Regions from separate parts of the Homo sapiens genome. Here regions 1, 2, 3 and 5 are each reported to be linked to region 4. The links are microRNA targets in miRTarBase. Many come from high-throughput screens and were not tested one by one. Region 4 holds a microRNA gene; each other region holds the end of a gene's coding sequence.
The links. Region 4 holds the annotated microRNA hsa-miR-466 (AUACACAUACACGCAACACACAU, at 4,181-4,203, opposite strand). A microRNA usually pairs through its seed, bases 2 to 8, with sites in the 3' UTR of a target mRNA and lowers its output. Matches are read on the target gene's strand: a 7mer-m8 pairs with bases 2 to 8, a 7mer-A1 pairs with bases 2 to 7 and ends in A, and an 8mer does both.

Region 1 (6,303 bases), not on the chromosome of region 4:
GTACTGTTATTCAGAAGGCGTCCCCAGGCTGACGTGTAGTAATTTAAATGTTGGAATGTAAATTCCTTGAGGTTCTTTGTGGGTTTTCTTTTTTTTTTTTTTTTTTTTGGTTTGTTGACAATTTAATATTCTTCAGTGATGTCTGGGGCATGGGAAGCACTCTATTTCTTGAATTTAATGTTGCATGGGTAAGGATGTTTTCAAGAAGAGCTGTGATCTTTTAAAAGACATGTTGCATGATAAAAGTGTCTTTAACCTTTACATAGAATACTTCAGTAACAACAACATGAGACATGCCTTTACTAGCAGTTAGGTAAAACCATACTCATAAAAGTTGCAACTTCTTGGCTTGCTTTTCAAAAATGTCCAAGCCTCTATGATGTAAGATTTTGTCTAAAACCAGGACAAATCTAAGAAAGTTAACTTACTGTTAAAAATTGAAGGCATTAGGGGAGGTAGGTGTTGGGGCCAAAGCTTTGTTACTGTGGTATGTAACATGAAGTGTGTTTGTTTCTTTAACATACAGAGCCTGCTCCAGTTCCCCCAATACCCAATGAACAGCAGTTAGCCAGACTGACGGATTATGTGGCTTTCCTTGAAAACTGATTTATCACTCTGAGTTCAAGATTCATCTTCAGAATCCTGTATACTGACAAACGTAGAAATGTAAAGTTTGTATTTTCAATTTATTGGATGGCTTAAGCACCTCAGCATTCCTTACTATGTGATAAAATACATATAGAATATAAGATATACTATATACATTTTGTCCATAAACGTTATGCTGAATAGTTGTTGAAACAGTTCTCATTTTGTAGTATTTAATAATCTGGATGGAGCCTGTCAGTATTACAGTTAGTTTTCTAGTGACTCATAAAATAAGATTTCCTGTTTCATGTAGAATAGTGTTTGTCAACTGTCTTTTCTCTGTCCCAGCACATGCCGTACTCTTATATGTACCATTGGTTGATAATTATAATGATTCATTTGGACTTGAAGAAAGATTGTCCCCAGGCACAGTATCTGAATCACTGGGGATTATGATTCACCCTCTTTGGAGAACATGCTCTCTTTTCACCCCCCACCTCCTGAGAGCCACTAATGTAAGATACAGAAACATAGCTGAGGAACAAATAGACCATTTCCATACTAAACCAGTTTGTTAACTTTAGATTTTTTCCAATAGTGTGAGTATATCCATTGCTGGCAGTGGAGGGCTTGCCATGAAAATGCAACTTATTTAAGACATTTATGAGACATATTAACTTGTGCTGTCGCCTTTTAGAAGGAGAAACTTAAGTGTGGAATGCATTATATGGGCAAAGAAGCTATGAAGATACATGATACACTTTGTACAACTATCCTGCAGCCCATTGGTTGCTTATATTTATCGCTTGGCTCAAGTTCTGCCCTTTGGAGAAATACTGAGCAAGTCTTTCATTCTCTGTGTGACAGCCCTCTGAATATTTGAAGTTGTTTGTTGTAACTTAAGGTTATAACAGCCCTTAGTTCATTTACTCTGCATTTGTTCAATAAATATTTAACTGAATTCTTCAATTATTTCATCTAAGATAGTTTCTGGAAATTTCACTCTCGATCTTTCTGTGGACACAATCTATTTTGTCATTGTGTCTATATGAATCTCTTAAGTAGAAATGAGTTGTATGGTGAATCTGTGTAGTGATAATTATATAATTTATTTATTTTGAATGCATTTTAGTGGCTATTTCAGTTTTTCTTAACATATATGGGAATACTTTTTGAATTGCAATTTTATTTAACCCGGATAGGTAAGTCATATTAAAATTCCTTGTTTTACAGTTGAGGAAATGGGAATTCAAGAAGTCAGAGGATCAGGAGAGTGATCAAGAGAATGACAGTGCCAGTTTTTTTAACTTCCAGGTATTAAGTACAAATTGTATCCATGGTTATTTTTTAAAAGCAGATTAGAGTCAATCCAAATATTCATTAATAGGGGATTGTTTGAATAAACAGCAGTGTAGACTACGCAGGTGTAAAAGGAGTGAAGATCTCTATACTAAACTGGAATGATCTCCAGAGTGAGAACATAGAAAGCACATGTAGTTTATATGGTTATTTTGAGGGTAACAAAAGGAGAATGATTACAATTATATATATGTACATATTTCCTTATATTTCAAAACTAAGCAATTGGGGGATATATACAAAATGAATATAATAGTTCCCTAAAGAGGAAGGAGAGGACAGTGAACTACTACATAGAGAAAAAATAATCTCAAGTGATCAAACACAATATTTCAATTTTACATTGTCAGTGGGATATACACTAAGGACAGAAAAAAATCTTAGACTAATGAATGTGGTTTTTCATGATTAATTTCACAAAATCTTGATATCTTTTTTATTATTAAAAGTATAGATTAAATTAATAATCATGTAACATTAGACCCCAGTAATCTTAAATTTGACATGGAAACCTCATTATATGCTTTATTTTTCTTTGTAAACAGTAAATATTTCCCACTCCTGTCTACATGAAAAGGTCTAGAGTAATTACAGTTCAGTAACAATGAGCACCACTAGTACCCAGATGGTGTTCTTTCATTTTCATTTGCAATTAAAAGGAATCAGAACTTATTTGCAAAACAGCTAATAGTTCCAGGGCAGTAAGTGTACAAGTTCATATCTGGTACAAGATGTCCAGGATTCAAGGAGGCTCTTAAAGACTTGGGATTCTGTCAAAGGGTTATACAAGCCAACTTGAAGGGATTTCTACAGGCCATGTAAAAATGAGACAGTTTGAGCATGAAATATTTGTATATGTGTCTGTTTTTAACTCTTAATAACCTCATCACTGTACAAGAAAGGCAGGGTAAGTGCTTGATTTCACTTCCCTTTATTATCAGTTCTCAGGACAAATTGATATGCTGCCAATCTCTAAAGCAACAAAATCGAACCTGTAGGGTAGTCAAAAAGCTCATGCTGGAAAATTCCACCGAATAAAGATAAAAGTTAGAAAAACGGTACTTGCAGCCCTTAATGAAACAAAGAAGGGATCATGGAAATATATATCAATGCTGTTGAGACCACAGGGTAAGAAATTGAGATTGAGCATGAAATATGTCCAGTACATCCATCAGCCTGTCTTTGTGCTCTGGCTATTTCTGAGCCAGCCATCTGTGTACAAGTGTAGCCTGACAGCACCCTGTTTCAGATCCATTGGATATCTCTAAAATTTGCTCTGGGACTTACCCTGGCACTACTATCAGGATGCCCACACAAACCTGATTGGGCAGCCCATCAGCAGTTGTGAACATGACATGGTGAATAAACACTCTCTTCCTTGTCTCAGGGCAGACTATTTCCAATGTGTTCTATACCTAGATCCTCAAAAAGAACCCCCAAAAAATTGAGCTGTGGTGTCCCATGGTCATAAGCTCTCTAATGCAGCCTTCAATTGTTTTTTCCTCATTCCTTGTTTTACTTTTCCTGGTTCCCTGTCTCTTGTTCCCGGAGATCAATAGAAGTGATCTGTCTACATATCTTTACATACCTATGCTATTCTGCCTTGGGGCGGGGATCGGGGACCTAGTCAAATCAAAGGGAAGTGTGTAACACATGAATCAGACTGAAAGCACCTGAATTTAATTTTATATATATAAGTATATATATATATGTGTATATATATATATATATATATATAATACGTATATGCATATATATAGTATATAAATATATACATATATACATGTACATATATATATATTTAAAGGTTTAGATCTGCTACTTTACATAAAATGTGAGAATTAATGGAACAAGTTAAACATCCCACTAAGAAACAGCCAGTTCCAGAATGTGGGAAATTTAACAGGATTAGTGAGTTTGCTTGAAAAATAAATGACAAAAAGTCAGGGGGTGGTAGTAAGTATGAAAATGTCTGTTCCTGGGTTGAAGTACCTTGAGGCCAACTCAGAATTGTGTCAATAACTAATAGGTGAATACCCACATTTATCCCTTGAGAGGCATCAGCCCCTAAATCAATGAGGAATGTGGAGCTAAGATTTGAGAGTACTGCAATGAGGTCATCTGCAGCAGCTCTTTGCAGGGTCGGTGGCAGGTGTTTGCTGATTCCACAGGGCACAGCAAGATTCAAGCTTTGCCTGGTGAGGGGCCTGCTGCTGAATAACCTAACAACCTGTGGAATTTGGGCACTTTGAAAGGGCTGGGGTGATAACAATGGAGACTTGAGAGGGCTAAACCACACTGTTTACCCTTCAAAACATTTGGTGAACTTTTAAGCTGCCTAGGGTAGGAGACCAAAAAGCAAGTCAAAAACCTTTGAGAAACAGTTCCGTTTTCCTGGAGTTTTGCTATGTCAGCGCTCCATTAAACAAGGTTGTTGGGTGGGGGAAGGTGTTTGCTTATAAATATAAACCAGAAGTAGAATATTAGTAAAACTGCTCCTGGAAGACAGGTCAATATAAAATATTAAGCTGAAGTACAGAAATGAAACAGTGGAACTTAACTGGCAATTGTGTTGGAGACATGTGGTACACAGCATAGCGATCTACCATTTATCTAATTGGAATCCAAGGAAGAGCGAGAATATAGAGTGGAAAAATAGAAGTACCAGCCCAGAATTTTCTGAAAGTGATGAAAGAAATCAATCCACAGATTCAAAAAGCTCAGAAAACCCCCACAGAGGATAAATGCAAAGAAAACCACACCCAGACAACAGTAGTAAAACTACTGAAAACCAGAGACAAAGAGAATATATTAAAAGCACAGAGGGAGGACCCGGGGGGACATTATCTTCAAAGAAGTAGTGGTAAAGCCAGACAGTGAAATGGCATTTTTAACATGTTGAAAGAAAAATAAAATCCTAACTGCTATATACAAAAGATCCTCTTTTAATATTTCTGTGTTCTTACATTTAAAAGTTGGAAAAAGATATACCATTGCAAATACTAACCAAAAGAAAGTTGGTGCACCTTTGATAGTAAGAGTTGGCCCTCCATATCTGTGGGTTCTACATCTGTGATTCAATCAACTGTGGCTCAAAAATATTTGAAATTTTTCTAAAAAAATACAGCATAACAATTATACATTGCATTGTATTAGGTATTAAATCTAAAGTATACGAGAGAATGTGTATAGGTTATTTGCAAATACTATGTTATATAAAGGACTCTGATCTACAGATTTTGTATACTTGGCAGTCTTGAAGCCAAGTATATCCCCTGTGAATATCGAAGGGTGATTGTATTAGGCAAAGTAGACCTCAAGGCAAGAAGCATTATTAGAGATAGAAAGTAATTTTTAATGAAAAAGATTGCATATAGTTTCCTTCTGTAACAAATTACTGCAAACTTAATGGCTTAAAACAACACAGATGTATTATCTTACAGTTCTGCAGTCCACAAATCTGAAATGGGTCTCACTGGGCTTATGTCAATAGGGCTGCATATTTTTCTGTAGGCTCTAGGGGACAAGCTGTTACCTTGCCCTTTCCAGCTTCTAGAGGCCGCCCGCATTTCTTGGCTCATGCCCCTCTTTCTCCACCTTCAAAGCCAGCAACATTGGGTAGAGTTATTTTCACACTGCTCGATCTCTGGTTCTCTCTTCTGCCTCCTTTTTTCCACTTTGAAGGACCCTTGTAATTATATTGGGCCCACCTGGAAACTCAGGATACTCAGTCTATTTTGAGGTGAGCTGATTAGCAATCTAGTTCTGTCTGCTATCTTAATTTCCTTTTCCCATATAACCTGAGATTCTACGGATTCAAATATAGACATTTTTGGATGTCCGTTATTCTACAGAGATCAGTCCAAAAGGCAACAGGAATATGTAGCAATTCTAATTTTATATTCAAAATATAATCAAGTGGAAGTTTACCGAACTAAAAGGAGAAAAGAGTCATCTATAATCATACTGGAAGACATAATACACCTCTCATTAGCTGATGGCATGAACAGACAATATCACAAAGAACATAGCAAAGGTGACAGACTTGATCTAATTGGGATACATAAAACACTAACCAACAATGACAAAATATAATTTCATTTTATGCTGTATAAACCATTTACCAAAATTGAACACATAAAGGACCATAAAGCCCTAATACATTACAAAGAGTAGAAATCAAAATGAGTGCATTCTCTGAAAACAGTGGGATTAAGCTAGAAATCAATAAAGCCATAGAGATTACTAGGAAATCTCTAACTGCTTAGGAATTATGTAGTTGTCTGGGCATAGTGGCTCACACCTGTAATCCCAGCACTTTGTGAGGCTGAGGCAGGAAGATCGCTCGAGCCCAGG
Region 2 (6,079 bases), not on the chromosome of region 4:
GGAAGCCGTCCAAGGAAACACTACATCTAGGTTGCTTTTGTCATCATGCAGTAAATACATCTCTTCTTTTCTGAACAGAGAAAGGTACATTTAAGGACAGGGATGACTCACAAAGAATTCACTTAATAACATGTATAAGGAAGGTGGAAAAGTTAGCTTGCAAAGGAGAATATTGCCTTATGGAAGAATACAAGAAATACAACCCACTAGGATGAAATGTCTTTTATTTGTTCCTCTGACTAAGATAAAATGTAGCTACTTGTTTTATACTTTAAAAATAAGAGTTCCTCTTCCCTTATTGGATGGAAATCAACAGTCTATTTTACTATATATTTTTGAATTTAAATAGCTAATAATTTATTGATGGGTAGAATCAGATATAAGGGAGCAGATTTTTGCCAAAGGTACAAGCCAACCAATCTAGGATCATCTAGAAACAAAATCATCTGGACACATGATCTAGGGACTTCTCAATTCAGTTCCTTACAGAATCCATTACTGCTTGTGACAAAGAAAAATAAATTAAATTTTCCATATTATATTGAAAAGGCCATGTGTGTACATATAATTATTCCCTTTATAATTTCAGTGATATGTTTGCATGGAAAATAACTGGTCCTATCATATGATAAAAATTAATATTTAAGTACATTAATGTTTCCTTTCATGACTACTTTTATTTTAGTACTTAAAAGTATTGGAATTAGGATATTTTTGCAATTAAGTAATTTAGTGATATTTGCACACATTTAAATGCACTGACACTACATTATCAAACCCTGTGATGCTAGGAATTCTCATTTAAGGTGAAATAATTAGATAGAGGTCCTAAATTGTTTTTCATATAATTGAAAAATGACTCAACCCCTTGAAGTTAAGTCTTACTCATAATAATTTTCTCTTTAAAAAAAAACTTGTTTAACAAACATGTACTCAATACCCAGTATGAACCTCAGACTGTATACTGATTTGAGGTTACAACAGAAGTAGGAGAGAAGCTGTTCTTTTCAAGAAACTTCATGAAAAAAAAAAAGGAGTCTGTATAAGACTGTACATCAGATCATCTAGAACATTTGTTAAAAAAGCAGATTTCTGGACCCCGTATCCTGAAATTTAGAATCAATTGGTCAAGGGTGAGGCCTCAAACTCTCTATGTTAACAAGTTCCTCAGGTGACTCTAATTTCTAGGACCAAATTTTTTAAAAGATACGTGGAGAATAGTCTAATCAAGACTGCATTTTTTATGTAGCTTCTGCCCAGGTCCAGCAAATAAAATGGTTATTCAGGTTTTACCCTGCCCAAGAGGTAAGGAATGAGGAAGTGAAAGGGAGTGACCTTCAGCTTCAATTCTGACTCCCTGCCCTCCAAGTCTCCAGTAATAGCTCTGCATACATGGTTGAATCTGCCAAGGAGGCACCTTGTTCTCCTTATCCTGGAGAGACTTTAGTGGGATATAAGTGGCATTTTTCAGAGCCTTATGTTTTTCTGAACCTATAAAGCAACTTTAGAACAAGACCCAGCAGGTATCATGGAGAAAACATAGACTTTCAGCTTCCAACCTAATCAGATATATATCTCTTTAACAGTACCCACATTTTTTGATTTGTAGTCACACTCAGTTCTTCAAGAGAAATCAGGTGTCAAAGAAAATGGACAATTTGTACTTAAATCAAGCTTTTAGGCTAAGTTTGCTACCTTCTTTATATATTATGCCTAGTCATCTTAACAATGTTGAACAAGCCAGGCGCGGTGGCTCACACCAGTAATCCCAGCACTTTGGGAGGCCGAGGCGGGCGGATCACGAGCTCAGGAGATCGAGACCATCCTGGCTAAGACAGTGAAACCCTGTCTCTACTAAAAATACAAAAAATTAGCCGGGCGTGGTGGCGGGCGCCTGTAGTCCCAGCTACTCGGGAGGCTGAGGCAGGAGAATGGCGTGAACCCAGGAAACAGAGCTTACAGTGAGCCGAGATCACACCACTGCTCTCCAGCCTGGGCAACAGAGCGAGACTCTGTCTCAAAAAAAAAAAAAAAAAGTTGAACAAAATGCTTGCCATGGGTCCCTCTATTCATAAAGGCAAGCTGTTTTTCTAATAAAATAATTTAATGTATTACATATTTAATTATATGTGTAGGACAAGATTCTTTTTGCTTTTAGAAAAATCTGCTATGCTGCTTATGGAATTTTCTCAATATTTCATCTGGAGTTTCTTCAGTATAACAAGTGCTCTTGTCCTATTAGACAGAAGGCCAGTTATCACTTAATTCTTCTGTCAATCACCCATGATCTAAGCTTGAGCCATTCACAGTAAGCTTGACTCTTCCTTCATTCTTTTTCCCATTTTCATTCAGCAGCTCATATGTCAGCACCCTAAATAAAGCCCTGAACATCTCAAGCTATAACCACAGACCTCGAACTGTTCTTGTTGTCTCTATGATCTCCCACGTCATAATACATCCCATGTGTAATAGCTTGGTAAATCTAACACATGATTAAACACTGTCGTACTCTTCCTTAGAGCAAGTTCTGAAGTCTTCTCTAATGCTCCTTCTAGCTTTATCTCCCATTAGATGTATATAATCCCACATTACAAGAATATTACATGTACTCCAACTTTATCTCAGGAAGATGTTCCTAAACTATTAATGTTTAAATTTATTGACTTAAAATGCCTGAAAGATTTGTTAGCAAACCTAGTAAGAAAAAAAATGAGAAGCACTTTAAAGGAAAATACTACACAAACTATGATAAGTTCATGCAACACAATTGCTACTAAGGATGGCTTTTTATTTGCCACTTTTCTAAAAGCATGGTTATTTCTAGAGCGGGGAAGGGCCATTATTTCTTGGTGACCTTTAAATCCCCATGTGTAAAGTCTGTTCTAACACTCTAAGAGACTGTTTCCTGTATGATGTTGGTTTACAAAGGAAAACAGACAGCTGTTCAGCTGTTCAGCAGCCTCAGGTGTCTCTGTGGGACGTCTTGAGAAACAAAAATTCTTGACTCCCTGCTGGGTATAATTTTATGAGCTCTGTGGGAGAATTTCTTTATGATCCTTTTCTCTCCTGATATAAATGTACACTGATGATTGTTTTGAAAACCGATTTTTATATTAATTTTTAGAAATACCGTGCCTTAACCAACAATGAATTTTAGAGCCATATGGGACATTTTGCACCTATCCACCAACCTTCAAAGGGAGCGCATCTTTTCTATGATGATATTATCAATAATGCCACATTATAGGAAAATACATTTTATGATGACTTGCTTTACATATATTTTGCAGTGTGTTCCAGATGTTACAACTGAAATACGTATTACTGTTGTTTTAATGCTCCCATTGAGCACCCTCTGGATGTCAGATTGAACAAGGAGGACACCATTCCATTCCAACTTTCCTTATAATACTGTTCTTTAACCCATGATTGTCCTCACCCTCCTGTGAGGACAATGCCCTATTTTCTCTATCGTTTCTATGGAATTTTTGTGCTGGCCAGACATTTTTTGCCTTCACTGTGTTAGTTTAATTTCTCTCACTAAGTTACATATATACTGAGGGCATTATGCAAATGCAAACAAGCAAAGGTAAATTGAATTTATACTTTATTAAAATCAAACAATACAAGCCTTAAAATTTGATTCAATAACATTATAAAACTATGCATCCTTTATGAAGTTTCAGTTGATATCTGATTAAAAAACACTTTGTTTCATAAGTGTTCAGTGATTTATGAAACTTTTAAAACAAATTAAGATGGGATTTATTACATCTTATAGCCATTATTGGACCCATTCTACATTTTGAAAGACTAAGAGAATAGGGTTAGCTATGGGAAATGCTGGCTCACTGGAAGAATCCTGCATTTTCCAACTTCCCCACTCCTAGAAGTTTTGCTAACAGGAATTGCAACTAGGAATGCCTCACCTGAAAAACTAATTTCATACAACTTTCATTAAGTAGTTTGACAATCTGTGACCCACAAATACTTCCATAGAATGGTAGAATTATTTATAATCAGAAATGATGGTGGGGTATAAAGGGAATCAAGAGAGGAGAGAAGAGGGCTAATGTTGTTTCTTCACCTCTCCCCATGAGAAAAATCATGTGAAATTGTTGCAAGACCCATGAAAGGAATTCATATATAATATTTCTGTACTATAAAATAATATGATTCTATTTGAGAAAAAATCATAGTACCTGAGTGCAAACAGTATTCACTGGCTTATTATAATCAATTTGCATGACTAATATTTCTGTTTGTTTTCTACTCAGGTGACATATTTGTTCGATAATGGAGGGACAGTCTTCTTTGCTATTTTTATGGCAATATGGGGTAAGTACTTTCTTCATTACTTTCTATCCCTTATTTTCTGAAGCTGTTTCTGTGTTACACACACACACACACACACACACACACACACACACACACCATGAATCAATTCAAAAATAAAGCCTCTAGGTTGGTACTTGATTTGTTTGCTCTCTTCATATATTCAGTGCTTCTTTAGGAATTTAACTCTTGATCTCATCCTCTAATCTCTAAAACCTAGACTTTCCTACATCAAGGAACATATTTTTTCTACCAAAGGAAGGTGGTAATTAAAAACAAACTGAAACATACTAGAATCCAAATTAATCTTCTTATATTATTGATTATGAAACTGATGCTCAGTAAAAAGTTGTTTGATATTTCCATTCATCTTTTTTAACCTTATGGTTCATACATTTAGGGATGCAGAATCTATTCCATTATGATTGAGCAATAATGTCTAATACATAAGAAATCCAGTTCCTATCTAACAACTTAAAACTGTACAAATTATGTACAGGTATATTCTTTGGTTAACTTTTTTTTTTTACCATGATTCTCATTGAGTTTTTAAGGCACCCAAATAATTGAAGCCTAAGATATATTAAGACAAGTTAAAATTCCCAAAACCTTTGAAGACTTTTAAAGAAGCTATTACTTTCCTGGGTAGGGTCAGCTTTCCTGCCATGGCCCCGTTGAATGCAGTCATTGTCAGCTTCATAACTCAGTGGGCTGATCATGTGTGTGCTGATCTAGAAAATTATAACGTACTAGAATACAGGTCTGTCATTTCTATTGCCTCAATTTCCCAATAACAGAAACTCTGGGCTATGTCCTCTTTTTAGCTTTAAGTCAAATTTTCTTTAAAAAGCACCCTTTCAATTTTCATTTAAGAAAATGCAATCTTGAATTATGGTACTAGGGCTTCAGGCAGAGCAGTAAAGAGTCATCTTCATTGTTTTAGAATTTTTTGGTGGAATAATTTTTATTATTTAGTTATGAGGCAGGGCTGTAATGGTGAAATCTTTTAGTTTTATCTGATTCCACAAATATTTTCTACTAAGAAAATACTACTAAAATACAAATTAAGGCTACTTAGTAAATGCCTCAGGATGGCCAAAAATTGTAAGAAAGAAAACCTTTGGATGATACATCCTGTCTACATTTCTGCTACTGGTCTCCTGCTTTTATGATTCTCCTTGACAAAATCCACGTGACAGTAATTTTGTGTAACCTTTTGAAAGATGAATTTGTCAAAAGGCTAGGATGTAGATGACACTTGCTGTTTAACGCCTTTTTGCTGTTAGTTCTATACAGAAGTACGAAGTGGAGGTATGTCATCCATAGGAATGCCATCACGTGCATTTTCTTCACTTTCTGGCATGGCTGAATCATTCAAAGTTGGATTGTAGTAGCTAGAATTCCCAAAACTCACATCATAAGGTTCCGGTGCATTGTCTAATCGCAGAACTAAAAAAGTAACAAAATAATACTGTTTCACAGTGATACTCTGAAAGATTCATGTTCAGGCATCCACCAAGTTATAGGAATTATTCTAGATGAGAAAATAAATATATTTTTATATGGGCTTTTTAGATTTTAGTTTTAAAATTTTAAATAAGTAGATGTTTTTCAAGCTTCATTTTTTATAAGACTAAGAGTACAGTTTTACTTCCAAAATTTTACTGTTGATGGACTCAAAGTAAAGGAACTAAAGAAGAGACCAGTATAGTATATCAATACCTTGCATAAAGAAGTGTAGACC
Region 3 (6,303 bases), not on the chromosome of region 4:
AGAGTTTGCAGGACTGGAGAGGATTAGAGAGAGCAAACTTTAGGATTATACAGAACACTACCCCACCATGCACGTCTTCAGCTGAATTCTGATAGAACATGCATGTTAGGTGACTAAGGCCAGGGAAAGAGCCATCCAAAAGACGTGGAGCAAACAGTGTCTGGTGCGCACATGGAATAGGAATAGTGCCTGTTCCACCACCAAGACTGGGAAACATGACTCCTTGCGGTTTTGGATAGAGTACAGAGAAGGCTCTTACTGAGGTAAGAGCAATGCTTTGGTCTTGCCTAACAAATCTTAAAAGCAAGACCTCAAAGGATCAAAGTTTCCAAGTAACTTAACTGCATCCTGAATAAAGCTCAAGAGTTTATAGAAACACAAAAATATCAGGCACCCAATTCATAGTGTTTGGCATCCAATAAAAAATTACCAGGCACGCAAGAATGAGGAAAAAAATATCAAAACTAACTCAGAACTGGCAAATGTAAACGTTAGCAGGTAAGGACATTAAAACAGTTATTAGAACTACATGTTTTCAAAAAGTTAAGATATTGAAGATACTTTAAAAGGTCCAAATCAAACATTGTAGGTGAAAACAAAATGAGATGAAAATAAACTGAATGATATTGACTACACATTGCAAAAAAAAAAAAAAAAAAACAACAATAGTCAACTTAAAGACAAACTATCTAAAACAAACACTGGGAAAAAGAATCTTAAAAGCCAATGGAGGATCGATCAATGAGTTGGAAGACAATCTCAAGTGGCCTAACACATGTGAAATGGGAGTTTCCTGAAAGGAGGGGAGGAAAAATAATTGAAGAAAGAGTAACTGAAAATCTTCCAAATTTTGATGAAAACTGTAAACCTACAGATCCAAGCAGCAGCAGCAACAATGGGACTTTCTGATGCTTTGAATGGAAACAATCTAAAAACATTGCCATCTATTAAAAATATTTGTCAGTCCTAGTAAATGAGTGACAGTTTTAGCAAAAATTTACCTGGGTAAAACATTCATATCCAATTCAAAGGCAAGAGTTTTCTAAGAGGCATACCTGGTTTCCTTGAGTTTCTGACTTAGCTGACACAGACCAAAGAATATTCTGAATGCTCAATCTACTTTTTCTATTTTAAGTCACATAAATATATTTAATAGAAAACTCTGATAACAAGCACTTTACTTTCTGACAAGATGTTAAGATTTTCTGTCCTGGTATATACCACTTGTTTCCAATTATGTCTAAAAACTCCTAGACTCAGACATCCATATCAGGTATGATACATCAATCTAGCAAGGACTAGGAGAGATAAAAAGTAGACAATGAGGAGGAAAATACTTGGGTGGAATGAAAACTAGCGGCTTTACTTTATACAGTTGTTCAAGATATTGTTACTTGAACTCCAGACTAAAATTATGGATAGAGTATTAGTCCAATTTGAAAATATTCCTGTTTAATACCACTGGGTTCTCAAACCATTAACAACCACTGGAACAACAGGAAACAGTTCCTTAATAATTTTTGCCTTTTAAAGTCCCAAATAAAGAAGTTCTCTCTGCCACGCATATCTTCTCAAGTAACTGAGATCAACGTTTGGTAGGTTTCATTCTGCAGTATTTTTCTTTATATAGTACATTTTGCAATATTTTTCTTTAGTATCTTTAGACATATTTAAAACTTGGAGATTCATACAGTCCCTGAGGATCCTAATTAACTACATGGAATTCAAAAATTCTTAAAAAATTTATTATCTTTATTTAAAAAAAAATTACACACACACACACATGCATACACACAGGATTGGAAATTTTTTTTTTTTTTTAGAATACTAACACCATCTTTTATTTTTCCAAATTCCTACAGTCTTATGCCACTTGACTCCTAGTTAACCAGGATATAAATGTATAATCTTTTCATATCATAGGTACCACTATCATTTCATCAATTTCCTGAAGTAAATTGAGTGAAATCATAAGCACACACTTAAGAGTCAGTATTTATTCTGATTAATATTTTACAAAATTTTGACATTTAATTTATGTAAGGAGGGCTAATTTATTAAACACTTTACAGGTTTTTCTTTCCACAGAATAACACGGTAAGTAGCAAAATAATACTTGGCACAGTTATAAATAAAGAAAATATAAAATAAAAACATCCATAGCTTAAGTACAATGATGCTGTTTTACGCCCATTAATATCAAATAAATTCCTGGAAACAACAAAAATATGAATGAAAAAAAACTCCAAGGAAGTAATTCATGTTCAGTGCTGAGAATTAAGTTCCTATTTGCTAAAAGTATCCAATTAAGTTGATAAGAACTATTCCCAAAGGTTCACCATCATACACAACTTTAGAACTGGGTTTATAGTTGGTTCCACACACAGGACCTACAAAATAATTAAACAGATGGTATACTGCTGCATAGCTGGCTCCTGACCATCTGACCATTTCTGAGTTATAGATTTCACAGGTACTACAAGATGGTTACTACAAAAGCATTCACATTGCTAGTATTTTCCATGTAATTACACATCTAGAGGTTTGTCTTTTTAACTGAATGACATCTCTTTTGCACTGAAAATATTGTACCACAAACAAAGAAGATGGTAACAACATTCTTAGCCAAACTCTGAAAAAACCACCATAGTCTTTAACTGTTGATAAAAATGTATTCGATAAAAATGCAACTGAGTCTTCATGTGAAGTGGCTCAAAATACAAAAAATTAAAACAAATTCTAGCATTTTATAAATAACTTTGAATTTAAAAATTATCTAAAATTTCCCCCAATTAGTAGTCAAAACTAGCTGACATTTGTAAAGTTAACCAATTTTTACATTCTATGACAAAATGGCACAATGCTATTGCCACCCCACACCCATCTCTTCCCTTTTCAAAAATAAAGTACATATGCCAATTTTCTAATATTAAAACACATACACTAAGGGTAATCTTTTTTTGATGTGTGACTTATGGTCAAATAAGCTACTATATAAAAATGGTACTTGGAAATACTGAACATCAACTATATACATTTCACTGCTCCTCTTACTAAGGCAAGGGGCGGGTATACCACTAGATTGCTTTAATACCTGTAATCTGCATTTTACAGGGAAGACTAGTTTTACCAAGCATCAGACATGCAGTGAACTTGCAGGGTATAATGCCTATTAACAGCAATTTTGAACATCACTAGAAGCTCATTAGTTATCTCCCTTTTCTTTTTGGTTGGACAAAATGAAATGAGCAGCTTTAAAAACACTAACACAGACACAAAGAGAAAACTATTTGATAAATTATTTATATACAGATACACATTCTTTACATTGGTCTAGGATCTGTCATCAGTCTGACCACCATTCCCCCACATCTCCCACCCCATTCCCTCTCACAGATTTCCCACAGGTTGCTCGAACCACAGTTTGCTACAGCACTTAAGATGAATAAACCAAATCTCACCCTGTAAACAATATTTATGGAAGCAGTGACTAGTAGTCCACCATGAAGGTATGAAAATGCTGTGACAAAAATTGATCAGTGCATCACATTTAACAAAAAGAAAATTTTTTCTAAAACTGTTTCAGAACTTACTCAATATTGGATAAACTGAAATACTCTTGGGGATGAAATTCTACTTTCTGATAGGTCATTTTATTGAAACCAGAATATACTGTCAGCTTTTCTTTTATTCACATGTGCTATGTACTTAGATCATGCTCCATCTTTAGTTAAATGCCATTATTTTGTCTACAATTATTTTGCAGCTGAGAATTTAAAAGGAAGTATATCCATGTATCACTATTACTGAGAATTTTGCATTATTTGTTCTGCCTTTTCTTGAAAATACCACCTTAACCCTTAAAAATGGAACTGTTTTTGAACATCAAATTAAATTCTAATTTATGCTTCACTGGATAGTATCTGCTAGTATACATTCTATGTGGTGTGTCATGCAATTAGCAGGGCTTTTAAATTTGAACAAAAAAACATGACTTACTATACTCATGCAAGTGCTTCATTATCAGACCGTAAAACCTCAGAGTAAGGTTACTACAAATTATTTCACTGAACTAGAAATATATCAGCATTGCAACAGCTGATAGAAACAAAACATTGTTAGCACATTTTATTGTGAACATTATTTTCTCCTGCCTTTGAAGACAACATCACAGTAGATCCCAATCACATGATTTTCATCACAGTATTTATGTGTACATTCTGAAATGTACATAATAACTAGTCAATCAACTTAAAACAATGCTCCTGGAATTAGATGCAATACTCGTACTAGACTGCATCATAACATTTAGCCAAATAACATAAATTTAGTTTTAGTTAAAACTGAACATTTCTGATCAGTACACCATGTCTGTCAATAGAATAAGTTTACCCTTTTTTTGTGAAAAATACTGTGAGAACAAAACCCAAAAGTTGAGTATGTTGTGAATTTCCACATTAAGAACCATTAAAATTATTTTTTATCATCTTTACTCTTCCCAGAAATGGCAGTGTGTTCTGTCCATGTTTACTTTTGTTAATAAAAGTGTTGAAAAAAAGACTGTAAAATTCACCATTAGCCCTACACATAGCATGCTCTTGTTCAAAGGATGTGGATTCGAGTGTGAGAAAGACACGGACAGACACAATTTTCAGGCACCACTCAGCAATATGCTTCATAGGATAAGATGTCGCTACACCAGCTGGTACCCAGATCCTGATATTTGGTCATATTCTATTGTATACTGCCTGGTCCAGTCCACGATAACAGGACGAAAGAGGCCACAGCATCGAAATTCAAAGAAGTCTATAATATTTCTTACACATCCATGGCTAAAAACAGCACCCCAAAAAGAAAACACGTCAGTCAGTACAAATGATTTAATACATGAATTCAATATAATTTTCGTGTTAAATATATTTTTTTCTAAACTTAAAAACTCAGGTTACTTGCAAGAAGGAACCAATTCATAACTCTATAAAATATATATGCCTTCATGTTTCTCCACTGCTCTGCCAACAATGATTTTTTCTTTTGCCAATTTAAAGACTTACACAATTATATTTTAAATTTATTCAAATGTGCATATACTTTCTGTGTTATATGCATTTTTATTTTTATTTTTAGAGATGAGGTCTTAACTATGTTGCCCGGCCTGGCCTCGAACTCTGGGCTCAAGCAATCCTCTCACCTCAGCCTCCCAAGTAGCTAGGACTACAGACATGCACCAACATGCCTGGCTCCATATGTAATTTTTGATAAAAACCTTTAATTAGTGGCTCTTTGGCAGGAGACAAACTATCTCTAAAACAGAAAAAAAGTAAAAGACAAAATAATTATAAATAGCATGAATCTGGCAGTGAACCTAAGGATAACAACTTAAAAAAGAAATGTCAAGGATAAGTTCATGAAATTTTAGTACTCCAGTAACACCTTTAGAAAAGCAGTCAGTTTTGGCCAGGTGCGCACCAGTGGTTCACGTCGGTAAGTAATCCTAGCACTTTGGGAGGCCGAGGCGGGTGGATCATGAGGTCAGGAGTTCAGGACCAGCCTGGCCAAGATGGTGAAACCCCATCTCTACTAAAAATACAAAAACTAGCTGGGCGTGGTGCATGCCTGTAATCCCAGCTACTCAGGAGGCTGAGGCAGAGAAGTGCTTAAACCCAGGAGGTGGAGGTAGCAGTGAGCCGAGATCATGCCACTGCACTCCAGCCTGGGTGACAGAGCAAGACTCTGTCTAAAAAAAAGAAAAGAAAAGCAGTCAGTTTTGTGCCTTATATAATTTTTGTACCTATGGGAGAATTCTCAAAACTACCCAACTAACTCTGTTTTTATTTAAAGGTCTGCTTGCTTTCCAGAAGTATGCCATAATTGACAGCACCACAAAAGCTGAAGAGTTGGTAATAACTTCAGTAAAACTCAAAGTTTTAAATATTTCATATACTTAGGACCCTACTATTTCTAAGCACCAGACTGAATACAAATTTAAAATTAAAAAGAAAAAAATATAAGGAGATATCACAACTTTATTATATACAGTTAATGTGATGAATTCTGTTTTGTTGTTATTATGGTGAACTGATGCTATTTCTACAGAAATCTTAAAAAGGTTTAAAAGCTATTTTACATATCACTAAGTAAAAGAGTCTGGTTAGTAAGAAAATTTTTATGACCAGGTAAAATATTAAATTTATAAATATGTACATACTTGAATGGGCTTTCAATAGACGTTGTTGTGACTTTAAAGTGCTTGTATCTCCTGGCATTCATTCTTTCATTTGTAGTAATACCTAAACATGATAT
Region 4 (6,303 bases):
GCACGCCATAGCTTTAGGAAGTAAGTTCTTATATTATTCCCATGTTGTAGCTAATGAAACTGAGGAACAGAGAAATTAAGCAGCTTGCTGAAGATCACACAAGTATCAGAGCAGGTAAATAAATAAACTATAGTGGCCTAACTCAAGAGTCCAGTTTTTAAACCATTCATGAGAGGAGTTATCATATATCTCAATCTGGGCCCTGTTAACCTGTCTAGGGATAGTTCAAAAATTACATTAAAATTATTGTATGTATATATATTTTGCTAGGAAGGGGATCCATAGGTTTCCTAAGATTCTCAAAAGAATCCCTGGCACAAAGTGCATAAAAAGAAGAAGAAACAATCCTGCTATGTGACTGTCATTCCTAGGGACTATAAAGCAACTTCCAGAAATCTTTCTTGAGAGGCATTGAAGGTTATAGAAATTTGGAACATTTTTTGTTATCATAATATGCTCATTTAAAACTCATCACCTCTATGACATCTTCTCTGTATTATTTAAACTTCCTTCCAACAAGGTGAGAGCACGGTGCTGGCAGGGCAAGTGGTGACCCATCCAGAGAACTGTGAGTGTCAACAGTCCCTCCAGTCCAGGGGTTCAGGTGAACAGCTGAGCATACAAGTTTAGGAAAACAAGCTCACCTTCAACAAAGCATGTAAATAAAAATAATTCAAGCCTGATCCATAAGGATTTCCCTCAGGTAACGAAGTCCTTCAGGCTGAAGCTCAGTCATTTCCAGGGAGGGCTGAGTCACATTTAGATTCTTCCAGGTACAAGTTTCCTCAGTTGAGGTGGTTGGATTCGCCAGGCCTGGATATTTGCAAAATGCCCTGCTTGCCTTGATTAATGACTTTCTCCATAAAGCCAGTCTTGGTGATGACATGACAAAGCTCCTCTGTCCCTGTGTGTTAATAGTACAGAGAGACCATTAACTGCTGGCAAGTATCCCAAAATTGCTCTGAAGATGTAGAGGAATTCTAATGAAATGTAAAGCATTCATCAGAAAGGAGCATAATAGATTTTTCAAAGCTCATGCTCAGTACTTCCACTTAACAAATGCAATACCATCCCTCTTTAGGAAATACACGCATTTCCCATGGAAGAAAGAAAAATATTTCAAATGGTCCTCTTCATTTTTCTGTATTTTCTAAATTTTAGGTTATAAACATGTACTAATAGTATTGTTATAAAGGAAAAGAATTCATGGAAAATTTTAAAAATTTTTCTAAAGTCATGCATTCTTGTGGTTCCCAAAAGTGTTTTATTGTCACATAAATAGGGGAAATGCACTCAAATGCAGAGATACTGAATTAGTAACCCTAGTGCTGGGGGTCTAGATTCTCGGCAAGTGGCATCCAGAAGTTCAGTTTATGTCAAGTATTCTTGCTTATAATTGACACAGTTGGTTACCCACCCAATACATTTCATGTCTTTCTTTTAATAGCCCCCAGATATTATTTGAATAGCTACCTCTCTCCATGCATCCCATATTATTTCAGAATAAGCTCAAACTTCCCCCTCACTCCAATAGTGGTCCCTGGTTGGTTTTACTCAAGCATGAGTTCAAGGGTGGGCCTGTGACCTGTGCAAGCCAATCAAGGTTGATTGTAGGACTCTTGCTCAGAAAGCTGGGCCATAAACCCGCTGTACCCTGCCAGCATTGAACAGAAACCGTATTATCCCAATGCCTATGACAGCCATCTTAAAGCCATGAGGGCAACCAGACTTAGGAGGAAAATGACACCGTGAGAGCCATAGAAGGGAGATGGAAAGAAACTAAATCCATAGTGCTACCCTCAAACTGCTGGATCAACCAATCATGGACGCGTTATTGCCTCTGCATGCTCAGGTTCCTAAAGTAATAAATCTCTTTCACTGAAAAGGTCAATTGAAATTAAATTTTCTGTTCCTTGCAACAGGATATCCTAGCTCATATGCAACTCCTTACAGTTATTGGTTTCAGTTGCAACACAGTGTATCAGCTGATTTAATTCAGTCCAGCATTTTTTTTTTTTTTTTGGCATACCAAGATTGGACTTTAGCCATCCTCATGGCAATCAAGTAATGTTTACCTATTAAAAAAAATAACTGATGCCGTATACTTCAGGACTTTCTTCCCATCAATGATTATGACCATAACCAACATTCCTCTATAACAAGACTCTGGTTTCAGTGTTTCATACCTCCATAGATGTCTCAGAATCAGCCCCATCCTGCCTTGAGGTCTCTAGTTCTGTCTCGTTACTTCTGACCTGGACCTTGACTCCTTGCACAACTGTTTTAAACTGACCCTCTATTGGGATAGTCTATGTTATTTTTCAGTTCACTTTTACCCCAGATGTTGACTTTCAGATATGCTTAGCTTTCTTATCCATCTGCCATGATCTAGCCCAACCTGTCACAATGCCAGGATGCACAAACCCTGGAGTGCATCCAGAGAATTGGGCAGTCTGAACTGGAGATGCTGGAGATACAATAAATAAGCATCAATCTCTATAAGTAAAATGAGAACATTGGACTTAAGATTACTCTGAAATGTCTTCAATTTATAAGATGTAAGAGGCTAGAGACATAGCCCTTACTCTTGAGGTATTAACAAGCCCACTACTCAGTAGGATGCTGATAATTAGAGGACTCAGTAATCAACATTTTCAAATAGCACTTTTCTGTGTAACAACTGAATAGTGTTGAATCTACTCCACAATTGTTAGAAATAGGACACATATTACTTAGCATTTTCAGCTTTATTTTTCAGAATGTAGGACATATTTTAATAATACAAAAAATGTTCTAATATAGAAAATGCCATAATATCACTATCTTGGTTAATCCCCACAGTAGCCTCACCACCAACAGGGAACATTCTTTGCATATCATAAAAGACTACTGGAGATTTATCCATTTTCTACCTCTGTGGCCACATACCTTACTTACTATACCTGTCTCAAATCCTACACTCCAACCTAACCAGATCACCAACAGTCCCTGGAAGTCACAATTTTGTCTTTATCTTTTCTTTTTCTCTAACCAGAATACTTATACCCAACTTCTTCATCCAGTGGGTATACTCATCATTCAAGACCCAGCTAAATTCTTTCCTCCTCACATACGCCTTCTCTGATCTTCTGAAAGTTGTGGCCGCACCTTCTATGTAGAAGACAGACAGTGAAAGAAAGATTTCAGAAAAGAGCTGCAAGCCATTTGAAGCCTGGAAATTGCACCAGTGATGCTTCTTAGTGAATGCTTTAGGCTTTAACCAGCCAGATCTACAACTTCTCCTTTGCAACGGAGCCAGGAAGCAGAATGGAAGAATGGACAAAAAGGTAGATGCTCCTCCCTGCAGTGTATTACCAAATTAGAATTCAGGCAGAAGTTCCCTCTCCAACATACAGTACCTAAAAAAATTTTGTATTGTACATGTGCATATAATGGATCGCAGAAGTCTGTGTTGTTCAAGTATAGTTGAACAAGTCTGTGGGCCCCTAACTCAAACATTAGGTTTATGACAGTAAGAACAATAACCTCTCCATAGCACAGGGCCTGCTATAACATAAGCACTCAATTAATATTTTTTCTTAATAAAAGTGAATGAAGGACCAAATAAAAAATAGTCTTTACATCGAATAAAAGAATACCAAGTGCTAGTGAGAATGTGGAACAAAGGGAACTCTGATCATTAGTGAGTGTCAATTGGCACAATCACATTGGAAAACTATTTGGTAGCTCTTCCTATAACTAAATGTAAAACCATGTCCCAGTAATTCTACTCCTGAGTATATACCCTAAATAAATGAGTACATATGTCCACCAGAAGACTTTGACAAGAATGTTCATAGAAGCTTCATTCAAAATAGACAAAAATTAGAAACAACCCAATTGTTCATCAACAATAAAGTGGATAAACAATGGTATATTATGGGTAGCAGAATACTACTCAGCAAGAAAAAGGATAAATGATTGCTAAATAGAACAACATAGATAAATTTTAGAAGTACAATAAAGAGCAAAAAAGACCAGACCTAAAGGAAGACATAAGGTATGATGATTCCATTTGTGAATTATGACCGTGAATATCAATACGAAGTTAAAAAACAGACTGAGAATAGGCAAGGCTGTGGTGTTGTAAATGTTCTGTATCTTGATCTAGGTGCCATTACGTGGGTGTGTGCATGTATATATGTGTGTTGCGTGTATGTGTATGTGTACATATATACACACATATACACACATGCAACACACATATACACACACATACAAATATACACATATAAAAGTTCATAAAGTTGTACATTTAAAGTTTTGTATACTTAATACATATGTTATACATATATGCAAATTTTTAACAACTTGAAGGGATTTCAGATTCATTTCATTTTCTGGTTGAACTTGAGAGAACACAGTGAGAAACTGCATCAGAGTCAAAAGTTCAGAATTAGAAGCAACACTTTCCTTATTTTACAAATGAGAACACAGAGCCCAAAGACATTAACTTAACCAGTGACCACTTTTCTTGTTAGTCACAGAGCTAAGCCAATATGTTTTCATTACCCCATGCCTTCCAGTACACACACACACACACACACACACACACTCACAAAACAAACTGTGGGCATGAATGTGGAATGGAGAGATGGCAGGGAAGCCTGTAGAAACAAAAGGGGTTTTCTCTAAATCTCATCCTCCTCATTGCCCCTTCCCCATTTCTCCTTCCTTTTCCTTTCCTTAATTCCAGGCATTGTTGACTTCTCTCATCTTCCCTGGTGCTTATTCTGCCTTTCTCTACAATTACCCATCCCAACCAAACACAACTCTATCTTAGTGGATCTCAGGGCGGTCCTCAGATGATAGAAATGGAAAAGTAGATAAGCACAAGTCATGTTTCTTTAAGATATATTTAATACAGTTGTACACTTATTTACATCACATCTCATTTCCAAAAGGTCAGCTTGGAAAAATCCATATATTACAAGATGGTAAATACTGAGGAAATTGCTGTAGGAAATATCAGAATTGGAGGAATAAGATGACTTGAGTAAAATGCTTAGGGTAGGGAGATTTTTTTCATGCTTCTACAACTCTAATATCAAAGTCAGGAACTGCTGCTGTACCTACCTCCCCAGTGGAATTTCCTTTGCAGAGGATCCTGAAAAGGAAGATTCTGATCCAGAGACCTCCTTTCTTTCTTTCTTTCTTTCTTTTTTTTTTTTTTGAGATGGAGTCTCGCTCTTGTTGCCCAGGCTGGAGTGCAATGGCGCAATCTCAGCTCACTACAACCTCTGCCTCCTGGGTTCAAGCAATTCTCTGCCTCAGCCTCCCAAGTAGCTGGGATTACAGGCTCCCCCCACCACACCCGGCTAATTGTTATATTTTTAGTAGAGATGGGGTTTCAACATCTTGGCCAGGCTGATCTTGAACTCCTGACCTCGTGATCCACCCGCCTCAGCCTCCCAAAGTGCTGGGATTACAGGCATGAGCCACCACACCCACCCAAGACCTCCTTATTTTACAATGAATTAGAGGAAATAAAGGCCTTATTTTAGTTGGCCCTGAATATAAACCTAAGAAATATGAAATTATGCCTGCCATCTAAATTACCTAGCTGCTTCCAAGGTGCTGTTGAGTTGTAAACAAATTAAAGAGAAAGCATAATTTGATCAGAGACATGTTACAAAGGACTCCTCCCTCCACACTAGCTCAGAAGCCTCAGGACACGAGCACTAGATTCAACCATGCCAATCAAATTGCCATGTGGTGGGCCTCTACTATGTTTACAAAATGATGCACGGAATAAAACATATATTAAAATTGGGTTGTGGGAAATAAACCACCATTCCAAATGTCGACAACACAGAAGCCAGGAAATACACATTTCAAGTATTCTCTTTTTATTGCTCATTCATCCAAGTTTCACATGTAAAACCAACATCCTAGAAACCAACCAAAGAGTTTAAAATGCTACTTGCTACTAATGCAAGAATGGGGTCATTAATTCCTGTCTATTATCTCTTACTGTTGTCTGAGGAACCTCAGATAATACACCTTAACTTAGTTAAATGAAAATTAAGGTCTGAGTTTTTGTTTTTCATTATGAAAAACAGAATGGAAAACAAAAGATATTTGAAGACTATAAAAATCCTTGAATGGTACAAATATTTAAAAATTCTAAGTAGTCGTTAAAAGAATTCATGGCCCAGTAGAGGAGAGTGGGTTCAGGGTGTGGACAAAATGAATCCTTAGAGTTCTTTCCAGCCGGTAGCTACTTCCACACAATTATGATTCCTAATTAGTCCATGACCCAAT
Region 5 (6,106 bases), not on the chromosome of region 4:
ATGACTAGTTTTCTAAACAGAACCTGTAATGACAGGCTCACATTTCTTCCTCAACTCCCACCTCCAAAGCCACTCCATTCAAAGAACTGCTGGTGAGGTGCTGGGGAGTCAATCCGTCGTAGAGGGGAAGCGTTCTACCCCTCCAGATCCTTCTGCAGACAGGAGGGTGTCTGCATTCGGCGGAGTCCAAGAGTGCGGTGAGGACACAGTGGCAAAGGAATAATGCCATTCCTTGAGGCAGCGCTGGGCTAGTAGAGACCTGTGAGGAAGTAATGTGTCCTGTGGGGATTTCAGGGTAATTTAATCAGCAGCACTTCAGCAGGGTAGAAAGCAAGGGCGGGGAAAAATAATGAAGTCAGCACTCAGCTACCAGGAGCTCCTCTGTTCAATCTAACGGGGAGATATGACCCCAGAGCAGGGCTTCCCTCCCTCCACCCGGCTCCCACTTCCAGCCAGGTAATTCTGTGTCGTGGGGGCTGTTGGGCACCATCCCTGGCCTCCCTCCACGAGTGCCCACAGTACTGCCCTCCTCCCCACCTGTGACAAAAATGTCTCCAGACATTGCCAAATGTTCCCTGGGGGGCAAAATTGCCCCTGTTGAGCACCACTGCCCTAGATGAACTGGAAAAGTTGGTTTGTGAATATGTGAGCTTAGTTGTTTCTAACACAGGGCTGAAAAACAAGAGAAGGGGACAAAGGCTGCTTTCATATAAAAATGTACTGTAGTAATCAGTAAGAAAAAGAAACAACATTGGCTAAGTCACGAATAGGCATTTCACCATATGTACATGATAAATGGCCAATCAAAATAAGGAATGGGGCTCATTCTGCTGGAAATTAAATACATTCAAACAAGAACAGAGATCCATTAGCAAAATGTTTAAAAATAATATCACAGGGTTACCAGGGGTATGACAAAAATGGACACTTCCATACACACTAGGTGAATATATTGGTGAAAATAGTTCAGATAAACATACAACCATGTATGTAAAAGTATTTATCATCAATGCATTATTTGTAGTAGCAAAAACAACAAGCAGCCTTGGAAACCAGTTAATGTCCTCAGCAGGGAATTAATAATATTATTGTATATTCATGAAATTGACACCATGTGGCCACACAAATGCATTACACAGGCCTCTATGTAACATAGGATATTCATTAGAGAATTGTTTTTCAAGAGGACAAAGTACTTTCATTTTTGCCTAGAAAATGGGGGAAGACAAAAATGCGCTTCTCTCTAGGTTGTGTGATTTTAGGTTATCCTAAGTTTCATCCTTACGTGCTCCTGAATTATCTGAAATATCGTATCTTTAAAAACAGTAACAACAATAGTAACAAGAGCTCTGTAATTCCTACCCTTCCAACCTCAGGAGCCCACCCACCCCTATCCGAGCCGACCCCTGACTGCCCCTGCCATTGCTCCCTGCTGAGTTGCAGACATTGACTTCTTGCCAAGCCTCAGGCCTTGCTCACATCGACACCTCACAGTGACCCTGAGAGGCAGATGCTGTGACCCCATTTCACAGATGAAGGGCCTGAGCCACAGAGGAGGAAGACTGCCTCAGCCACGCCGCTAGTAAGTGGTAGTTCCCAACTCTAGAGTCCCAAAAGAATTCTGTCCTACTTATGAAAAGTATATCCAATAAGCAGTACCTCCCTGTGTTTACAACTTATCTGCTGATCCCAAGGATGGGAAAAGCTGCACTCAGAAACTTGCAAATTGTGCAACTGTTCCCCACGATTCCCTTGGGGCCAGTGCCGACTGAGGCATCTCCAGGAGGCCCCAGTTGGGCTTGGGGACATGCTGAGAGGTGACAGCACTGCTCTCAAGTCATATCCTCTGCTTCTGCAAAAGCTGTGGAGCTCACCCATCAATAGCAGCTCCATGCCGGGCGCAGTGGCTCACGCCTGTAATCCCAGCACTTTCGGAGGCTCAGGCGGGCAGATCATCTGAGGTCAGGAGTCCGTGACCAGCCTGGCCAACATGGTGAAACCCCGTCTCTACTAAAAGTACAAAAACTTAGCTGGGTGTGGTGGTGTACGCCTGTGATCCCAGCTACTCAGGAGGCTGAGGCAGGAGAATTGCTTGAACCCAGGAGGGGGAGGTTGCAGTGAGCTGAGATCACGCCATTGCACTCCAGCCTGAGCAACAGAGCAAGACTCCATCGCAAAAAAAAAAAAAAAAAAAAAAGGCTCTAGCATTGCCAGATCCCAGGCCCTGTGGAAGGTATTTCCCTCCCTCTTTTGTCCTTGCTTGTCTCAGAGCCCTTTTCACAGTCTCTTGTGTGCTTCTTTCCCTGTTAGGACCAATCTTTACAACTCCAGCAAGCGCAGCAAATAAGATGCAGAACTGGGGGAGATGCAACGTATGACTCAATTCCCTTGAGCCGAAAACACTCACTTATTAACAATATTTTTTTCTTTTTTTTGAGACAGAGTCTCACAAAAACAGGCACACGCCCCCACACCCGGCTAATTTTTGTATTTTTAGTATAGATGGGGTTTCACCATATTGGTCAGGCTGGTCTGAACTCCTGCCTTCAGGTGATCCACCTGCCTCAGCCTTCCAAAGTGCTGGGATTACAGGCATAAGCCACCACGCCCCACCAATGAAATGTTTTCTAAAGGTGTTTTCATCCCTTTTGTGATCTCCTAAACTCCCAAGGTGTATCACACACTTCGCTGGGCTCTGGGCAAACAAAACTTAGACAAGGTCCCTGATTCTAGAAACCCTCGGTCGAGGGAACCACAAACCAACCAGAGTGGAGGGCAGGGAGAGGTCCTAGGTTGGGAGCTGGGAGCCTGGAGCACGTGCCAGGTGCTCTGCAGCCCAGCTTCATTATGGAGGCTCAAGCGCTGTGAATTTCCAAAAACAGTGAACACACCCCTAGCTGATTGAAATACAAAAAACATATTCCACAGCCAAATGAAAATGACTTTTGGATCCTCCACCTAATTTGGGTGTTTATGCCGCCTCGCCCCTCTTTTGGCCTGGACAATTGAAATATATCTGCTCTCAGGGGAGACGCCCACGGTGTCAGGGCTGGAGTTGGCAAGAGACAGGGGGAAGAGGACTAGACCTGGAGTCAGAGATGAAGTTCTTGTCTGGGATCTGTCACTAAGTCTCAGCGGGGACCCAGGAAGTCACTCCACCTCTCATAGTTCCTCATCCACAAAGTGGAAATACAAGCAAGTTTAATTCTCCATCGTAAGGTTGGAGCTCCTGTCTGTGAAAGGACTGGAAATGTAAAATGCGCTCTTCAAGTACAAAGGCAGAGAGGATCCATAAACAGGCACAGGCTGCCCTTTGGTATAAACTGTTCACATTAAATCTATGTTATGTTGCTCAAGAGTTAAAATAAGCTCAAAGGAGAGGCTGATTCCAATGTCAACCCAGGGAAGACAGACACTGAAATTCCAAACTGAGTTACCAAAAACAATAGATGGATGAGACATGCAGACATGCCACAATCCGGCACATCAGAGTTCGATGTAGTCCTGCTGCAAACACATGGAATCCGAGAAGTCCAATGCAAACGGAATAGATTTCTTGGGATCTAATATTTTTCAAATTGCCTGACCAGCTTACCTTCTAGGAAAACTTATTTAAGGGAGGCAAATAATTTGGGGAGATGAGTATAAGAGGTAGTAGGAGGAAGCTAAGGGAAATCACCACTACATATTGCAGGAATGTATTAGAAGGCAAATATGGCCCAAAGAAAAAGCTCCACTGAAAAAAACATTGAATACTGACCACAGAATTAGCACCTTGCTCCCAGGTCAATAAAGTGAACCAAAAAAATTACAAAGACCTTGCTCAATCCTGAGGTTCGTGAGGAATATAGGAGAGTTGTGTGTTCACGTGACTCCTGAAAACAAAGAGCAGTACTATTCGAAGGGCATGATGTCTTGATCTTAGGATCAAATATTCTAGACCTTGAGCCGGAGAATCTGCATTACAGTAGGAAAAATGGGGAGTGCTTTATGCCTGTGGATTCAGGACACACCAGCAACCTACACGTGTAGCATTCTCTAAGTCATAATGACCATTCTCATCTCCCACTGAGGGCAGGTGTAAGACTCTTCTCTTGCAGTGCTCTGATAGAAAGCTGGGTTTCTTCTTCTTCTCTATAAATCATAGGGAAACCAAATATTTGTACCTGTTACAGCCCCAAAGCTGAAAGCAATAAAGAATAAACACATACAGCAAGCTACGAGGTGCGTCTGTTTAGGAATTGCCTCAACGTTGGGTTTCTATTGATAGAACAGGGGAGGAGGTTGCCTCTGACCTTCCTGAGGCTCCCACTGTACCCTGGCTGAGTAGCCCACAGTTAATTTTAAGTGGCAAAAGAAATGAGAACAAATTCCTCCAGGAAGAGAAATTAGATTTCTGCTAAAACAGTGCTCTCCATAGGGTATATGAGCACATTCGACTACCACTGGAAAATAACCTGAGGGCAGGCACATGGTGCCCACTGTTAGAAATCGTGCAGTTAGATTAGAATGGAAGAGTGTCTGAGTTTTTAGATAATTTTACACGTCAGGATATGGCTAACAGGTCACGTTCAGGGCCTATGCTTGATACTGTCGAAATACAAACAAAAATAACTGCCTAGAGAGAATATTCACGTCCTAAAAGAGAAAATGTTGTATCTGGGTGGAAGAATGATTTAACTCCTGAAACTCGAGAACACAGAACAACAACAAAAATAATTTCCTTGAACATATTCAACTAGAATGGCAAGGCATTTTCCTACATAAAACATTAGAATGTTCCCATTACTCCAAAGGAATCCAATAAATAATTTTACAGTGAAAGAGCCTGGATCAAAACTGGAAGTGACACCGGCCCCCGATGAACACAAGTCACAGGTCCCTGTGCAGGTCCCAGGGCTGAGTCATCCAAGAACTCCACCACCACCGTGAGCCCGGCCTCCGGTTTCATCTTTCCCGAATGGGACTGGCTGGAGGGGCCAAGCTGCTTTACAGAAGAGTTCCATCTGGTAAGCCCGGGTGGTGAGCGAAGCCAAAGATGACAACACGAGAAGGGGTCAAAGCCAAGGTTTCCTCACGCTGCCTTTGTCTTCTTCCTGCAGCCTGGCCCGATGGCTGAAGCTGGGTCCCAGGAGGCGAGTTCTTCAGCGGGGCCTCCTCACCCAGGCTGGAGCAAGTCCGCTGCACCCGTCAAGCGGGGAAGAGCTCGGGCGGGCTTTCTCCATAGCAATACTTTGCTATGGGGTCCCGGTAGGTGTTCTCATGCTGCACGCTCTGTTGGCAAAAGGAAAATAAGAGCGCAGTGAGAGCGAGCACAGCTTCACACACCTCCCTCTCGGAAGAGTGAGAGTGGATCGGGACTGTCAGACTCTCCCTGCAGGGGGCTGGCCGAGTCCATCTCCAAATGTCACTAAAGGCTCCAGGGCACTTTCTGGAACAAAGAAGAATGCTCAACCCAGAATGCCAATGAAGAGCATGAACACAGACATAACATCGCTGTGGGACTGTTTCTTTTTATGTACACCAGTGAGTTTTTAAATAACTTTGCTGTGACCTGGTGACTCAAGACAACTACTTTTCCTCAAATTACTTGAAACAGTCTAAGATCCAATGGGTGTTTTGCACCTGATCCTGAGCTTCACTCAGTTCCCGTAAGGAACCCTGCAGAGACACTAAGGAGATGCACTTTAAATTGCTTTCATAAAGTTTATGTACCTAAAAATTTGGGGCATGAGCCAAATCCTACAATACCATGCAAGCCTCATTTGGCTAAGCAAATTGGAAGTGTGATTTAAAGCAGACAATCATTCCTGATGGCTAATTTTTCAGCAATTTGTTTTCATACAAGCAACTTGGGTTTTTGGCTAGTCTAGAATTCATTAATTAGTCCAAGACCAATGCTAAGCAACAAACTTGTAAATATTCATCCAATTTAACAGACATATAGCCAAGTCTTCTCTTTCTTGGGATACTTTTATCAAAACAAATCAAATGGCAATTGGGAAATCTTTTTATGGTAAAAAAGACCAAGTCCTAAAGTATAGTAGCTTCACTGAAGACTGGAAATAATTCCTGGGTTTTATCAGTGAAGGAAAGAAAATACTTC

Region 1: the mRNA of COPS8 is a reported target of hsa-miR-466. The part of its 3' UTR that is shown has no 7-base or 8-base seed match.
Region 2: miRTarBase lists MUC15 as a target of hsa-miR-466. Seed matches in the 3' UTR shown: 7mer-A1 at 4,393-4,399.
Region 3: the mRNA of ZDHHC17 is a reported target of hsa-miR-466. Seed matches in the 3' UTR shown: 7mer-m8 at 4,583-4,589, 7mer-m8 at 3,314-3,320 and 8mer at 2,529-2,536.
Region 5: the mRNA of SPRING1 is a reported target of hsa-miR-466. Seed matches in the 3' UTR shown: 7mer-A1 at 1,132-1,138.

What each region holds. Positions count from the first base shown.
Region 1 is chr2:237,097,137-237,103,439 of GRCh38, forward strand. It overlaps COPS8 (COP9 signalosome subunit 8), which reads left to right. Exons shown (of 8, transcript NM_006710.5): 8 at 527-3,338. The coding sequence ends at 606. Among named protein-coding and RNA genes, the nearest start is that of COPS8, 14 kb to the left of the region's middle.
Region 2 is chr11:26,555,442-26,561,520 of GRCh38, forward strand. It overlaps MUC15 (mucin 15, cell surface associated), which reads right to left. Exons shown (of 5, transcript NM_001135091.2): 5 at 3,591-5,784. The coding sequence ends at 5,624. ANO3 (anoctamin 3) reads left to right here. Exons shown (of 27, transcript NM_031418.4): 14 at 4,278-4,338. Among named protein-coding and RNA genes, the nearest start is that of MUC15, 14 kb to the right of the region's middle.
Region 3 is chr12:76,849,376-76,855,678 of GRCh38, reverse strand. ZDHHC17 (zDHHC palmitoyltransferase 17) reads right to left here. Exons shown (of 17, transcript NM_015336.4): 16 at 6,209-6,303; 17 at 1,983-4,832. The coding sequence ends at 4,694. Among named protein-coding and RNA genes, the nearest start is that of CSRP2, 26 kb to the left of the region's middle.
Region 4 is chr3:31,157,534-31,163,836 of GRCh38, forward strand. MIR466 (microRNA 466) reads right to left here and starts at 4,254; the gene lies at 4,171-4,254.
Region 5 is chr12:116,712,620-116,718,725 of GRCh38, forward strand. It overlaps SPRING1 (SREBF pathway regulator in golgi 1), which reads right to left. Exons shown (of 5, transcript NM_024738.4): 5 at 1-5,274. The coding sequence ends at 5,191. Among named protein-coding and RNA genes, the nearest start is that of SPRING1, 22 kb to the right of the region's middle. RefSeq lists enhancers at 4,573-5,102, 5,103-5,632.